Linked DNA regions of Homo sapiens: region 2 is linked to region 1. Evidence: fine-mapped expression QTL. Tissue or cell type: subcutaneous fat. Region 1 holds a variant in brackets; the other region holds the start of a gene. All regions are shown on one strand. Distances are between the middles of the regions.

Region 1 (8,108 bases):
GACACTATCAAGTGAACAAATGCTAACAAGCAAAAAGACAACCTGCAGAATAAAAACATTTTTGCAAATCATATATCTGATAAGGGTCTAGTAGCCAGAATATAGAAAGAACTCTTACAACGCAACCATAAAAAGTAAAATAACACAATTTTAAAAGCAGCAAGGTATCTGAATAGATATTTCCCCAAAGAGGACACACAAATGGCCAATAAGCACATGAAAAGATGCTCAAAACCATAATGAAATACCAATTTATACCCAGTAGGATGGCTACAAACAGAAAGACAACGCCAAGTGTGGACAAGGATGTGGTGAAATGGGAACTTTCATACGCTGCTGGTGGAAAAGTAAAATGGTGCAGTCACTCTGGAAAACATGTTGGCAGTTCCTCAAAAAGTTAAATAGCAAGTGATCATATGATCCAGCAATTCCACTCTTTGGGGTATATTCAAGAGAATTAAAAATATAAATCCACATAGAAACTTGAACCTGAATGTTCACAGCAGTATTATTTATAACAGCCAAAAAGTAGAAACAACCCAAAAGTTCATCAGGTAATGAGTGGATGAACAAAATGTGGTACTGTACATCTACACAATGGAATATTAGCCATAGAAAGGAATGAAGTACTGTTATATGGTACAACATGGATGAACCTTGAAAACATTATTCCAAGTGAAAGAAGCCAGACACAAAAGGCCATATATTCATCCATTGATATGAAATATCCACAAAAGCAAATCCATAGAGAAATTAGATTAGTAGCTGCCAGGTGATAAGGGGGAGGGGAGAATTGGGACTATGTGCTAATGGGTATAGGATTTCTTTTGGGGTTGACAGAAATGCCCTGGAATTAGCGGTGATGGCTGAACAACTGTGAGTATATTAATAACTACTGAATTATACATTTCAAAATGATGAAAATGGTGAATTTCATCTCAAATTTTTAAAAAGTTTAAAAATGTTTTAATCCAAATAATATGAAAAACAAAAATGGAAGGGTTGTGAATTACTTTTTTTCTTAAAAAAAAATCTCATCTTTTCAGTGTAGCATTGTTTATAACAACAAAAAACTGAAACCAACCGAAATAGCCATAATTAGGAAATGGATTAAGTAAATTATGATCCAGTTATGGAAAAGAATGAGATGTGTTAGCTGAAAAAAAGCATAGGGCCAAACAGTGGATGAAGTATAATCCCATATGTTTTTAACAGTATGCAAACATACTTATATCTGCATAAGCTCCTAACAGTGGTAACCATAGTAGAGTGGGACTTGGAGACTTTTTTAAATTTGATGCCATTCTGTATTATTTGAAAGCTGTTTGAAATTATAATATTCAATCCCTCTTTTGGAATAAAACTTCAAGTATTCAGATGGCTTTCAAATGTAGCAGACATTCGAGTTTATCTAGCGAATAAAATCTTTGCTGTAGGCAGGGAAAACGTCTTTAAATGTTTTATTGTTTTTACAATCAGAATATGAATGTTGTAATAACACAATCTAAATTTTCTGACAAACTGCACTTATTATAAGGCAGGATTTTCAAACAATTTACCACAAAGCCATTTTACATGGTATATATGCCACAAGAAAAAAGTGTCAGGCGAAAAACATGTCTACATACAAACAGAATACAAAATGAGAAATTATATATTTCTGATGACAGAACCAAAAATCATGTATTTATGGTAATAACAGTTTATGATATTAGGTACATAATGTGACTGATATTTGTCCTATAAGGACACAAAAGCTATTTATTATAGGGTAGGAAGTGTAACTTTGCTTGGATTCATGCACAGAAAGGTACCGATAATATATAATAATGGTAATATTACGCAAGTATTAAATAACATAAAAATCTACAAAAGGATATCTATAGCATCAAAAAGGTACATTAGCAAAAATAAAGATATCCCATCCAATTCTTAACCTTAAAACATGTCAGAGAATCTCCAGGACTGGATAAACATTAGAGAAATTTACTTTGAAGTAGAGATGAAAATATCAAAAGAAAAGTTTATACTTCTACTTCGGTAGTAACAATGTCAAGAAAAGGACAAAAAAACTTACCTGCCATTCAAACTCGCTATCTGACCAATCCCAGTAAGTGCTAATAGAAGAAGAGACATCACTGCAGACACTCCCCTCAGGAAATAAATCAAAAGAAGTGAAGTCCTGATCATCTAACAGGGAATAGCAATCATCTTGATCTCCAACAGACACAGATGAAAACAGCTCCTCACTGCCTTCTGAGCTGGCAACACTTGTTCCACAAGAAGTTAGGTTCCACCTTCAAAAACACAACACGAAAGAAATCAAGAGAACTACAGAATCCATACAATTTTAAGATATAATTAACAGGACATATTTATAACATTTATAAGGAATGTGAGGTTTTTTGTATTTTTAAAAGAGCCCCTACCTTTTAAGGAAATATACTAAAATATTTATGAATGATACATGTCTAGGATTTGCCTCAAAATAAGGCAGGGGTTGGGGAGTGGATAGAGGTACAGATGAAGCATGATGCCGTATATGAATAAATGTTGAAGCTGGGTGACAGGAACATGGGGTCCATTACACTTTTCTCTCTACCTTTGTAGCTGTCTGAAAATTTTTGTAGTACACTATTTTAAAAGAAAGTAGTATTTAAATTAGGACTAAAGTAAAATCTTCATCCATAAACAAAGCATACAGCATAGTGGTTATGAGTAAGCTCTGGAATCAGACAGTTCAAATTCTTGCTCTGTCACTTCCTAGCTAATTGATTTTAAGCAAATAACACTCTCTCCAAGTCTGTGTCCCAATGGAGGTATCGTGATGATCACATGAGAATGCATACACAGCACTTGTAGCACACATAAAAAGTGCCCAATATATGACAGCTATTATTATTGTTAAAGGAAGAGTGGGGCCATTGCAGGGCAGAGAAAAGCACTAACAAGCATCTACACAGGTAGATGTTCAAGAAGTATTTGTTATATTTAAGTAACTTTTTCATATTAATGCTGTACAGGCTCATTGCAAAGATGTTGGAAAGAAAGGAATGAATAATAAAATGATCAATAATTCCATTATCCAGCAATAACTAATCTATAATATTTTGGTAGTTTATTTTTATGTGCATACATATTTTTTACAGAATCAGCAACCATTCTGTGTATATATATTTTAGTATATTGCTTTTTTCACTTAACATTAATATGCTAAACATTTTCCTAAGTATATTACTTGAAAACATTTTAATGCCTATATAATATTCCATTGGCTAAATGTATCATAATTTATTTAACTTTATTCCCCAATGATACATAAGCTGTTTCTAATTTTTTAATATTAGAAATAATACTGAGATGAGCATTGTTTATAATTATTTATCAAAATATATTATCTCAGGATACAGTTGCTTGAAAGGTAAGTACTGAGTCAAAGAATATGAACATTTCTAAGGATCAATTTAGTCAACACCTTTCTGAAAGGCAGCATCAATTTATACTCCCCAGGGCAGTATATAAAAGTGCTCATTTCATCACAATCTTAACAGCACTAAAATTGCTAAAAATTTTTTTACCTATCTTATAGGACAGAAACTTCTTGCTTTTTTGAGACAGGGACTCACTTCTCTCATTGAGGCTGGAGTACAGTGGCACAAACACAGCTCACTGCAGCCTCAAACTCCCAGGCTCAAGCGATTCTCCCATGTCAGCCTCCAACTCCCAGGCTCGAGCGATTCTCCCATGTCAGCCTCCCAAGTAGCTGGGACCACAGGTGCAACATGCCCACTTAATTATTGTATTTTTTGTAGAGATGGGGTTTTGCCATGTTGCCCAGGCTCGTCTCAAACTCCTGAGCTCAAGCCATCTGTCCGCCCCAGCCTCCCAAACCACTGGAATTACAGGCATGAGCCACTGCACCAGCACAGAAACATTTTTATATCAAGTTTTATTTATTTAATTACCAGCAAGATCAAATTTTTAAATATTCATTAGCTATTTCGCTATGGTGTTTTCCTATGTGCTAATATTTTCATTACTAATTTTGTAAGAGTTCTTTATGTATTAAGGATATTAACATTTTGTCTACAGTATTTATTGCAGGGTTTTTTGGTTGGATCTTTTTTTGGTCTTGAAATCTATCAATCTGTTTTCCTTTGTAAATTTCCACTAGTTTTATACTATTAATAAGATAATCTTCATTGCTTTGCCAGTAGCATAGAGAATTAATCCTTAAGATAATTATTTAGTATTTCCAGTACTAACAAGCTCCTGAAGTAATGACTTCCTTATGAAAAGTCTGTTATTTACCTATTATTAGGTCGTGTCTCATCCTTCATTAAATCT[A/T]CTGTTTCTTAAATTACGCACTTCATTTTTTTTAACTTCCTCCATTTTGTATGGCTAATCTTTTAGAAGTTCTTGATTTACATACAAAATTTGGACAACCTGAAAAACTTTATGGTACCTTTTCTTTTGAAGGTAGACCATTTTAAAACACTGAAACACACACACACTATTATAATTCAGTAAATAGAAAGTAGATGTCAATAAATTTTTATAGATAGTAAAAAAAATAAAATTCATCTAAGAATCCTAGAATATCTTGTAATATTACTTTCATCACATGCTCGCTAGGTGAACAGTATCCTCATTTTAGAAAAATTTTTAATTAACCAAATTATCCCAGGTCTTGCAATAAAAGTTATGAAGAGGAATCATACCCTGGTTTGAGACCAGTCTGGGTAACAAAGCAAGACAGTATCTCTACAAAAAGTTAAAAAATGTGCTGAGCAAGGTGGTGCATGTCTGTATTCCCAGCTACTCTCGGGAGGCTGAAGCAGGAGGATCCCTGGAGCCCAGGAGTCTGTGGTTATAGCAAGCTGATCCTGCCACTGTACTCTAATCTGAGCAACACAGCAAGGCCTTATCTCAAAACAAAACAAAAATACATTCTGGACACAGTAAGCCTTATCTACATTATGTCCTGAGCAAACTATTTTTCTCTTGTGTCTTCAAATTACATGTGATTTTTTTCCCTTTATTCATTCACTCATTCAACAAACATTTAGTCAGTATCTTCTATGTACCAAGTACTATGTTCGGTGCTAGGAAAAACTGTTAGATAATTGTTTTTAATTAGAATTTCTTTTTAGTTTGTAAAAATTCTGTAGAAATGTGTTTCTCTCCATGAGTAATAGTGACATTCCTTAAAAAAAAAAAAAAGATGCCATATTTAGTAATCTAACCATTAGATCACTGCCAAAGGAGTCAGGAATTTGCTTCATTTTGTGCTCTTACCTTTGGGCAAAGTCAATGTGTTTCTCAGATTTGTAATCATCACAAGGTTCTGAATGTTCTTAGAAGTCTTTGTCTTTTGTTTTTAATTATCAGCAGCAAGTAAACCGGGCTCATAATTGAACAAATCATTCATAAAATAGAATAACAGTATTTTTTACTAGTAAAGATTGTAACATTTTTTATATCTTCCTTTTTTTTTTTTGAGTCAGGGTCTTGCTCTGTCAACCAAGGCTGGAGTGCAGTGGTGCGACCATGGCTCACTGCAGGCTTGACCTCCTGGGCTTGATTCATCCTCTCACCTCAGCCTTCCCAGCAGCTGGGACTACAGGCACATACCACCACGCCTGGCTAATTTTCACATTTCTTTTTTTTTTTTTTTTTTGGAAGAGAAAGGGTTTCATCACGTTGTCCGGGCTGGTTTCAAATGCCTGGGCTCAAGCAATCCTCCCACCTTGGTCTTCCAAAGCGCTGGGATTACAGGTGTGAACCAATGCACCTGGCAAAATTTTTATATCTTCTAATTTGCAAATTTTTAAAATCATAATTTTAAGGCAATATAGATAAAAACAAAGTAGGAAGTACTTTCATCCATTGCCAGTGACAGTCTAAGTTGACATAATCTTTCTTAAAAGCAATTTGGCAGTACTATGTACATCTAGACGTTTAAAAAGGTTCATTCATTTGGAATCAGTAATTCCCCTTCTAGGATTGTGTTCCCTTCCCCAAACAGAAATTTGGAAAAAAGATGTGTGTACAAATATGTCCAAACAATACTATTTGTAATAGTCCAAAAGGGAAAATAAATGCCCCTAAAATATGAGGATTAAATGATATATCTGAATGGTATTTTTATAATCACTAAAAATCATATTTTCAGATTATTCAAAAGGAAAACACCCAACAATATAGGAGCAAATATGCAGGTCACAAACTGATCCTGATGTTTAAAAATTATATCTGTACATAGACACATTAAAAGAAACATCAAAATGTTGATAGTTGTTACCTTTGGGGAAAAGGATCATGAGTGGTCTATAGTTTTTTATATGCCCTCAGTTTTCTATAATAAGTTTTTAAATAAAAATTTAAGTGTGATTCTTTCAGACTGTTCTGTCAGTTTCAAACTTGTAATGAATGTCCATTGTGTGCTCAGCACTAAACTATTTAAATTTACAAGCCCTTACATTATATTCCACTAAGAGAAAGTTACCTAACACTTCGACTCTAGCTATCACCATAATATTACTCTCAAAAGAGACTTTCTCCAAAATCTTGAAAGACGTTGAAAAGAATTCCAGTGAAACACGGTGTTTAACTCAATAACTAGGCTTGCTGCCCAAATTTTAATTAAAAAAAAAAATAAAGCCAAGAACATTTCTCTGCAAGGTGTTTCAGCAAGAATATACAGACTAAGGACTTTCAATGGTATTTTGGTAAACAGCCATTTAAACGTTAAAATTAAGAAAAGCATGTGTACCATGTACACATTCCTCTGCACCCCCTTTTCTCTCAGGTGGGCCTGACTGCCACTTCTGAAGATAAGAATCCAGCCAATGAGCACTGTTGAATGAAGTTCTGCCAAGCTGATGAAGGTCATTTGAAGTCTATGCTATATATTCATTCTTAGGGTACAGTGCCCCATCAGTACTTGTATTCACCACTGACTCTCTGCCAGAATCCCCATATAGCCAACCTGACTTCTGCTGCTATTCTGGAGTCCAACAGGCCACCAAGGTTCCAAGTTAGAGAATATACAACCCCTTCTTCTACCCACTTAAGTTCCCTACTTTCCTCCTAGCTACCCCAATTGTGTTGGGTTCATTACCCATCTTTCCTGCCCTCTTTATTGCCTTGGAAGTAAAAAACACTCTATGTCATTTCTAAGGCTAATGATCCCATTTGGACTTCTGAGTTCATCATGTCTATCTCTCATCCCACCTTCTTTTATATTTTCAATTTCTCCCTTTCCTGTGGCCTGCTTCTAAGGAGCTAACATCTCTATTCTTGGAAAAGAAAAACTAAATGAAGTTAAAAAAAGAAAAAAAGAAACCTTTATTTCCCTTTCAAATTCTCACAACATCTCCCCTTCTCCTTTCTTTCCCTGCTAAATTTATTGAAAACCTTCCACTCTCTCAACCTTTGTAACCTGTAGTTCCACTTCTATCACGTCACGGACTTCTACTGATTACTCCCAAATCTGTATTTCTAGCTTGGATATTTCTCCAAATCCTAACCCCCCATTTTCAACTTGTCTCAGCAAGTCCCCAAACCAAATTCCTCCAACATGGTTCTCCCACCTGCAACCCACAGCTCTTCTGCACCTCTAATTCTGTATCTAGATAGGAAAACTATGGGTGTTACCAAAGGCACACAATAGTCTTTAGGTTTTTCTGGTTAATGGTGATTGAAAACGGAGCTCTAAAATCACATAACTGAGTAAAAGATTTATGCAATAGTTTGGAAGTGCTAAGAGAAAACCTCCATTTACATCAGAAAATCACTGCCCCCAAAACCAAAGAAAATGTCTTAAACACTACATATGTTCCACACTGACATTTCACATTTTTAAAAAATTCATTCACTTTTTTGGCTTATTGAAATTTATTCTATTTTCCTAAAATTCTAGACCAATCCATGTAGGTCTTAAGGTATGAATGCTTAGGAAACTGGCTGTGTCCATGTAATGTATTTTCTACTGAACCTAGACCAGTGACATACCAACCTACATCACAAATGACTTTAATTTGAATACTGGGCCGGGCGCGGTGGCTCACACCTGTAATCCCAGCACTTTGGGAGGCCAACGTGGG
Region 2 (8,108 bases), 250 kb after region 1:
GCTTTATAACCTTGGCCAAGTTTCTGCATCTCTCTGATCCTCAGTATCTATATATGTAAAATGATTGTCATGAAGGATGCATGAGACAAAGTATGGAAAGTGCTTAGCACAGCAACTGGTATATAAGTTGTTCCATAAGTTATATTAGTAATTTCATTTTTAAAAATCAGATAATACTAGGAATCCAACATACAAGGGATGTGAAGGACCTCTTCAAGGAGAATTACAAAGCACTGCTCAACGAAATAAAAGAGGATACAAAGAAATGGAAGAACCTTCCATGCTCATGGATAGGAAGAATCAATATCTTGAAAATGGCCATACTGCCCAAGGTAATTTATAGATTCAATGCCATCCCCATCAAGCTACCAATGACCTTCTTCACAGAATTGGAAAAAACTACTTTAAAATTCATATGGAACCAAAAAAGAGCCCGCATTGCCAAGACAATCCTAAGCCAAAAGAACAAAGCTGGAGGCATCACGCTACCTGACTTCAAACTATACTACAAGGCTACAGTAACCAAAACAGCATGGTACTGGTACCAAAACAGAGATATAGACCAATGGAACAGAACACAGCCCTCACAAATAATACCACACATCTACAAACATCTGATCTTTGACAAACCTGACAAAAACAAGAAATGGGGAAAGGATTCCCTATTTAATAAATGGTGCTCGGAAAACTGGCTAGCCATATGAGGAAAGCTGAAACTGGATCCCTTCCTTACACCTTATACAAAAATTAATTCAAGATGGATTAAAGACTTAAATTTTAGACCTAAAACCATAAAAACCCTAGAAGAAAACCTAGGCAATGCCATTCAGGACATAGGCATGGGCAAGGACTTCATGTCTAAAACACCAAAGGCAATGGCAACAAATGATCCATTGACAAATGGGATCTAATTAAACTAAAGAGCTTCTGCACAGCAAAAGAAACTACCATCAGAGTGAATAGGCAACCTACAGAATGGGAGAAAATTTTTGCAATCTACCCATCTGACAAAGGGCTAATATCCAGAATCTACAAAGAACCTAAACAAATGTACAAGAAAAAATCAAACAACCCCATCAAAAAGTGGGTGAAGGATATGGACACTTCTCAAAAGAAGACATTTATGCAGCCAACAGACACATGAAAAAATGCTCATCATCACTGGCCATCAGAAAAATGCAAATCAAAACCACAATGAGATAGCATCTCACACCAGTTAGAATGGTGATCATTAACAAGTCAGGAAACAACAGGTGCTGGAGAGGATGTGGAGAAACAGGAACACTTTTACACTGTTGGTGGGACTGTGAACTAGTTCAACCATTGTGGAAGACAGTGTGGCGATTCCTCAGGGATCTAGAACTAGAAATACCATTTGACCCAGCCATCCCATTACTGGGTATATACCCAAAGGATTATAAATCATGCTGCTATAAAGACACATGCACATGCATGTTTATTGCAGCACTATTCACGATAGCAAAGACTTGGAACCAACCCAAATGTCCGTCAATAATAGACTGGATTAAGAAAATGTGGCACATATACACCATGGAATAGTATGAAGCCATAAAAAAGGACGAGTTCATGTCCTTTGTAGGGACATGGATGAAGCTGGAAACCATCATTCTGAGCAAACTGTCGCAAGGACAGAAAACAAAACACTGCATGTTCTCACTCATAGGTGGGAATTGAACAATGAGAACACTTGGACACAGGATGGGGAACATCACACACTGGGGCCTGTCGTGGGGTGGGGGAGGGGGGAGGGTTAGCATTAGGAGATATACCTAATGTAAATGACGAGTTAATGGGTGCAGCACACCAACATGGTACATGTATACATATGTAACAAACCTGCACGTTGTGCATATGTACCCTAGAACTTAAAGTATAGCACTAATAAAAAATAAATAAATAAATAAATTAAATAAAAATGAGATAATAGGGCAGAGCTTGCAGTGAGCTGAGATCGCACCACTGCACCCCAGCCTGGGTGACAGTGGGAGACTCCGTCTCAAAAAAAAAAAAAAGAGAGAGAGAGAGAGATAATAGGAATAAAGGCAAGATAACAACTAAATTGTTCTAAAAGCTGCAATCGGTCTAATGAACTGGGTTATCTGCAGAATGCCTTTTAGACTGCTTGTTTGGAAGGCAGCAAAGAAGAGTTTTCATGGGCTTTGGAGTTTGACATCCCTGGCCTGCAATCCCAGTGCCTGCACTTAAAAGTTGTGAAGCCTTACACAAGTTACTTAACATCCCTGAAATTCAGTTTCCCTCTCTGCAAAATGGGATACAATGGCTGTCTCAACAGTGTTGCTGGGAAGCTTAAATGAGATAACAGATAGAAAGTTCCTGGTACAAAGGAGGAAGGCAGCCAAAGGCAGCTATTATTGTTTCAGCTGAAAGCTTTATCTCTAAACCTTCAAGCTTCTAAGGTTTATGTGTTAAAATTACAAAATGTGGTCTCATTAGAGCCATCAGTTGGAACAGACTCACACACATGAGGCCAGAGATAGGATGTCCTGTATCCAATTGGAGCCAGGTTGCAAATACTCCCCCCATCCCTGCACAAAATGTCTCTCGCTTTGTTCCAGTAGTCCAACTCTGGCACCTTTACACAATCCATTTCCTGTCATTATTTTTGTCCGAGCTCTGACACCTATTCTTGGTCTTATGTGATTCCATCCCTACCAAGTCCAGCTGCAAATACCTAATTTGGTGATAAAGCCAATTTAAACACTGAACAAGAGTCTTCTGGGAGGCAAGAGTCAGATGTCACGGGACAGGGGAGCAGAAGCAAAAGTCTGAAGGAAACCTAAGAGCTACTGCCACCATCACCCCTAAGTGTGCGAGGTGAGCAACCTGCCTTCTCCATACATCCACACTTTCCACCTTCCACCACCACTACCCCACTGTTCCATCCACAGGCCACAATCCTGAGATGGAAAGTGCTTCATCTCCAAATCTGTATTGTTTACTCCAAGGAACTCTACATCTTGGGGTTGTAAATAAGAGGGTGGAAATGAGTGAGTGAAGTGCCTTGGCAGGCTGAAGATGAAGCCAACGGCAGTGGAAGGGCTTCAGACTGTTCACTTGCTTCCAAGCATCAGGAGTCAAGAACAGGCCCCACAGGAGCCTCCTAGCCACACTATACATAAAGGAAGTAATACCTGCTCTCTAAGTCAGGGAAAAATGGAGCAGGTTTTCCAGCCACTGCCTTCATGGCCATTCACTTTGGACAGCCCTGCATGCTGTTTCCATGGAGTTGCTCCTTCTCTGGGGCCAGTGATGCCAAATCCAGCAAAGGAGAAGTCCCCTGAAGAGCTCACAGAAGGGCAACCTAGCAACCTGTCCTTGAGCCAGGAAATGAAAGAGCCATATCAGCAACAGAGAGCTGTGGTTTGGGGGTTAGGTTAAATGGGGTTTGATTTCTCACACTTCTTCATCAAGCATGGCTTGAAGAAGGAAGACATTATGACAGACCCATTTGAAAATCTGCAAAGCTGTGGACTCAGAAGAATGTACGGAGTCCAGATTCTTTGCATACAGTTCCAGGAAGGACCGCGGGTAGGAACCTGTGCTCTGGAGTTACATTTCATAACAGATATGCCATGGACAAATACACTGATGACAGGCCCATTTACTTATAACCTTCAGCATCACGTGGTGGTGTTTAGAACAGTGGTTCACGAATCTCTCTACACCTCAGAATCAACTATGGGGCTGTTTAAAACTACAAATCACACTCTTTACCTGTAGTCCTAGTACATCAAAATCCCCCAGGGGTAAGGCCCAGGAATCTGCATTTATAACAAGCTCTCCAAAATGATTCTGAGGCAGCCCACTTTTTACTCACTTTAGTTAATAGTATGAGTTCTGGATTCAGAGATTCGGTCCAAATTTTGGCTTCACCTTGTAATTTCAGACAAATCATTTTACCTCTCTGAGCCTTGCCTCCCTTGGCGTCACAAAGGGCTGTCGAAATTATGTTGCTTTTATAAAAAGGGCAGCTTTTTGTAGTATAAAAAAAAGTATTTTTAAAAAAACGAAGGAAAGAAGAGTGCCAAGAAGAGTTTCCTCTTCTGTACAATGGGCACCATAAAGGTTGCCTTCATCTTCCCTCAGCCCTCTCCCTACTACCTCCTCACCCCCTCCCTCAGCACTATCATCACATTGAGACTGCTGTTGAGATGGTTTGAGACTACCTGTGCAAAAGTGCTCTTCAGACAATGCTGCAGGGCAAACAATTAGCATCTAGAGAGCAACATACAGGTGCTAAGTTGGATGCTGTAACTTCTTTGCTGCGGGATACAGTGCAAGACGCTTAACCTCTCTGTCTTTGGCTCAGTTTCTTCATCTGTGAAATGGAGATAACAGTTCTTGCTCACTAATTCTATGCAGTCCCAAGTTGGTCCTCCCATCCTGGCTTTGGTTTTTCTCCGCTATCCCTTAATCTAACAGAATAGAGGAGTGTTGGCAAGGGGTAGCCTTTGAAGTCAGATATGTTGACTTGGGAGTGAGCTCTTAGCTCTGCACTTCCTAACTGTACCGCCTGGGTGTTTCAGTCCTTTCCTGTTAAGTGGGCACACTGCTACCTCCTTCACAGGGCTGCTGAGAAGAAAGGAGACAGGCGCATCCGCACACAGAAAGCACTCAGTAAATGCTGTTTCCCCCCTTCCCCCTATACAAAGGTAAGGAACTCTCATTGTTCACTTGGTTTCTGTCCCACCTCGTGTTTCAGGCATCCGGTCTCAAAGCCCGGAGCAGAGCCGAGGCGGAAGGGGATGGGGAGAAGGGAAGCGACGGGGTAGCAGCAAACTCACAGATGAAAGGGAAATGGGCCTGGTCCGTGCGTCCGAGCTCCACTTGACGCCGCGCCGGCTCCCGTGCCTGTCGGCCTCAGCCCCCGCCAGCCAGCTCCCGAGTCTTGCTAGCAGTAGCTTCAGGGCCAGAGGCTGCTTGGGTAGGCCGCCTCCTCGCCCCGCTGATTGGCCGCGTCGCGCGGCTTGTCACGCTCTTTTGTCTCAATGGGCAGAGACTGAAAGCAACCGCGGCTGCCCGGAGGTCCGAACTGGAGGGTGGCCGCAGCCGTGACTTCCTTGGGAACCGCGCTGCCTCGACTCGGCTACCTCTCTGCGAAGCACTCGCTAAGCCGGGCAGCCCCGGGGTCGCTTAGCGGCCCAGGAGGCGCCAGCGATCCTGTTCCCCTGCAGAGCTATGGGGACCGGAAGGCGAAACAGAGCTGTCGACGCGGGAGCATACGCTGCCCACCAGTGGAGCGCAGGTAAAGAAAGAGCGCGCGATTTCCCGGCGCGGAGAGGGGTGGGGGAAGCCCCACCAGGACTGGGCGGCGCCCGGCTTGGAGAATCAGTAACTGCGAGGCAGGGGATGGAGCACTCCCATGGCCTGGTTGCGCTGAGAAAGGAGTTGTGGCTCATCTGGATGCTGCCGACTGGGTAGGATTTATGATTTGCCTGGATTGAAGTGGGCGGGGGTGTTGTCGGGCGTCGGGGGCGGGTGTTCGGGGAGGTGGCAAGGGGCGGGAGAAGACGATCGCAAGCTGTCTTGAACCCCTTTTGCATCTCCTCATCTCTTCCTGGGAAGGAATATGGGGGTGGGAGGTCATCCAACTTCTAGTCCCTTTCTCTCCGGCAGGTCATCAAAGCCGAATCCGAATTTGAATTCTGTGCGGCTGATTGCAGAGCTGGTAGGCCGACGGTTTCCCGCAGGAAATGTACGGGGGGCGGGAGTGCAGGAGGCACTTTGGCTTGTGTTCAGAAGATGGGAGAGGGAATTTTCCGCCTGGCGACAGAGGAGGCGGTGGAGGGGAGGTATCAGGTTTTCAGAAGAGGCTGCTCCCAACCCTTCCTTTCCTTCCTTCGCGGCACAGTCTTGAGGCCCTGAGGACTGGGATCTGCGACCCCCAGTGGACAAAAGTCGACTCTACCCCAGAGGCTAATTTTCTCAAGGCAGGCACCTGTTGAGAGGCTGCAAGTAAAATACAGGGGAACGCTAGTTTCCGAGCTCATGTAAGAATCTGAGAAATAACGGGGGTAAACTTTGACAAAGGGGTGTGTGATTGAGACCTGAGGTCATGAGATTAATGGGTTCTTATTACCTCTTGCGGGGGGAGGTAGTAAAGGGGAGGGGCAGGTGGCCTGTGGCGTCCTGAAGATTTTTCATGCATTCTTTTTCCGAGAACTAAACATTGTCAACTCTAATATATCTATAGCGCAACTTGCTTCAAGGACAGTAATAATTTTCATTTAATAATTTTCCATTTAATCCCTTTACTACATGGTCATTTCTGTCTCTTATATTCCTAGGTTTCCCTTTATAAGGATTAGTCAGATCAACATTATATCTCTAACAATGTTCCTTAGCTTTTTCACTCTCATTATACCTAGAGAATTTAATGGAATAAACCAGATTTTATATATATATATATATATATATATATATATATATATAAATGTGTGTGTGTGTGCGTGTGTGTGTGTATAAAATTACTCAACATTCAAGTAGTCTTGAAAAAAGATGGGTAGGAGTCACCTTCTTTCCCTTCATCAGTTACCAGTGTTCTCTTAACATAATGGAAGAGGCAGGAGGTATTCCCACCTACAACTCAGGATTCCTATGTCCTATGGGTTCAGTTGTGTCCCCCCCCCCAAAAAAAAACACCAAATACATCTATTGGACTCCTGACCCCTCGTCTCTCTCCTACTTGAAGATGGGTTTTTTAGTGGGATACTGAAGTTAAATTACATTCATTAGGGTGGGCTCTAACTCGAAATGGCTAGCGTGCATTGTGCCTATCAAAAGGGGAAATTCAGACAAAGAGACATGTGTACAGGGAAGAAAATGTGAAGTAGCATACAGAGAAGTGGGCCATCTACAAGCTGAGGAAAAATCCCTGGAAGAGATCCTTCCCTCTTATTACTCAGAAGGAAACAACCCAGCTGACGCTTTGATTTGGACTTCCAACCTCCAGAACTGTGAACAATTAATGTCTGCTGTTTAGGCCACCCAGGTCTGTGGTACATTGTCAGGCTAACAGAGCAAACCAATAGGGATTCTGTTGCCAGACAGATCTGATAGCTAACACCTGAAAGAGTGGAAGCAGCTTTGGAACTAGATAATGGATAGAGACTGGAAGCATTTTGACATGCATGGCACAAGAAGCCTAGAGGGCCTTTAGGAGATGGCTGGGGGAAATATGGACACCAAATGCAATTCAAGTGAGGGTTAAGAAAAGAATTATTTGCTGCAGACAAAGGATCTCTGACTTAGAGAATACATATATCATGATCACCGATATGTTGCTAGAGCTATGAGTGTTAAAGGTGCTTGTGGTGAGTTATGAGACCGAAACTAGGAAGATGTTACTGGAAGCTTGAGGAAAGGCAATCCTAGTTTTACAGTGGCAAAGGTTTGGTCTGTATTGTTTTCTTAGTGTTTTTGAGGAAAGTAAAAATTGTAAGTGATGAACTTGCACATGCAGCTGACTTCTATTGTTGGGGCTCAGAGCATGATACCCCAAAATAAAGGCCCCAGAAGTAGTCTCGGATGTAAAAGATGTTCTCTGAGGTCCTGGGTCCTCCTGTCTGTCAGCCCCATTCTTCCCAGGGAGCTAACTGTACAGACCAGAATCCCTCTTCCCCAAGGTGGGTCCTAGAAACCAGAAGCCTTTTTTTCTAAAGATAGTCACAAAGCCTAAAAATACTTTTCTAATTTTTCCTCCACCTTTTTTGTGTAAAACTGGTCATAAAGAAATGATCTGACCTTGTTTGACTGCAGGTCACAAGACCCCATTACAGAGAGGGTCCTGCCCCATACCCAGGAGGAAGAAATCTGTGTTCACAGAAGCCAAGCACAGTCTAGACAAACAAGCCCTGCTGGATTAGCATTAGGTCTTAGCCTTTTTGTCCCATCATATTTCTACAGGGCTGTCCATACTTTGTTGAACCTGAGCATATAAATAGACAATTTACCCTGTACCTTTCTGCCTTTGCTCCGAAGGCTGCAGTGTATATATGTTAAATAAATTTGTATGCTTTTTTTTTTTTTGAGACGGAGTCTCGCTCTGTCACCCAGGCTGGAGTGGT

Evidence for each region. PIP is the estimated chance that this variant, and not a neighbour inherited with it, causes the effect.
Region 2: TMSB15B-AS1 starts here. The variant in region 1 is fine-mapped to the expression of TMSB15B-AS1 in subcutaneous fat (GTEx, PIP above 0.99). The same link has a PIP of 0.9 or more in visceral fat.

The regions. Positions count from the first base shown.
Region 1 is chrX:104,169,812-104,177,919 of GRCh38, reverse strand. FAM199X (family with sequence similarity 199, X-linked) reads right to left here. Exons shown (of 6, transcript NM_207318.4): 2 at 2,078-2,297. Among named protein-coding and RNA genes, the nearest start is that of FAM199X, 7.4 kb to the right of the region's middle. The variant A/T (reference allele first, on the strand shown) is at 4,348.
Region 2 is chrX:103,916,011-103,924,118 of GRCh38, reverse strand. TMSB15B-AS1 (TMSB15B antisense RNA 1) reads left to right here and starts at 4,571. Exons shown (of 5, transcript NR_146557.1): 1 at 4,571-4,694; 2 at 5,039-5,287; 3 at 5,659-5,710; 4 at 5,894-6,032. It also overlaps a transcript of TMSB15B not described here. RefSeq lists an enhancer at 4,556-4,645.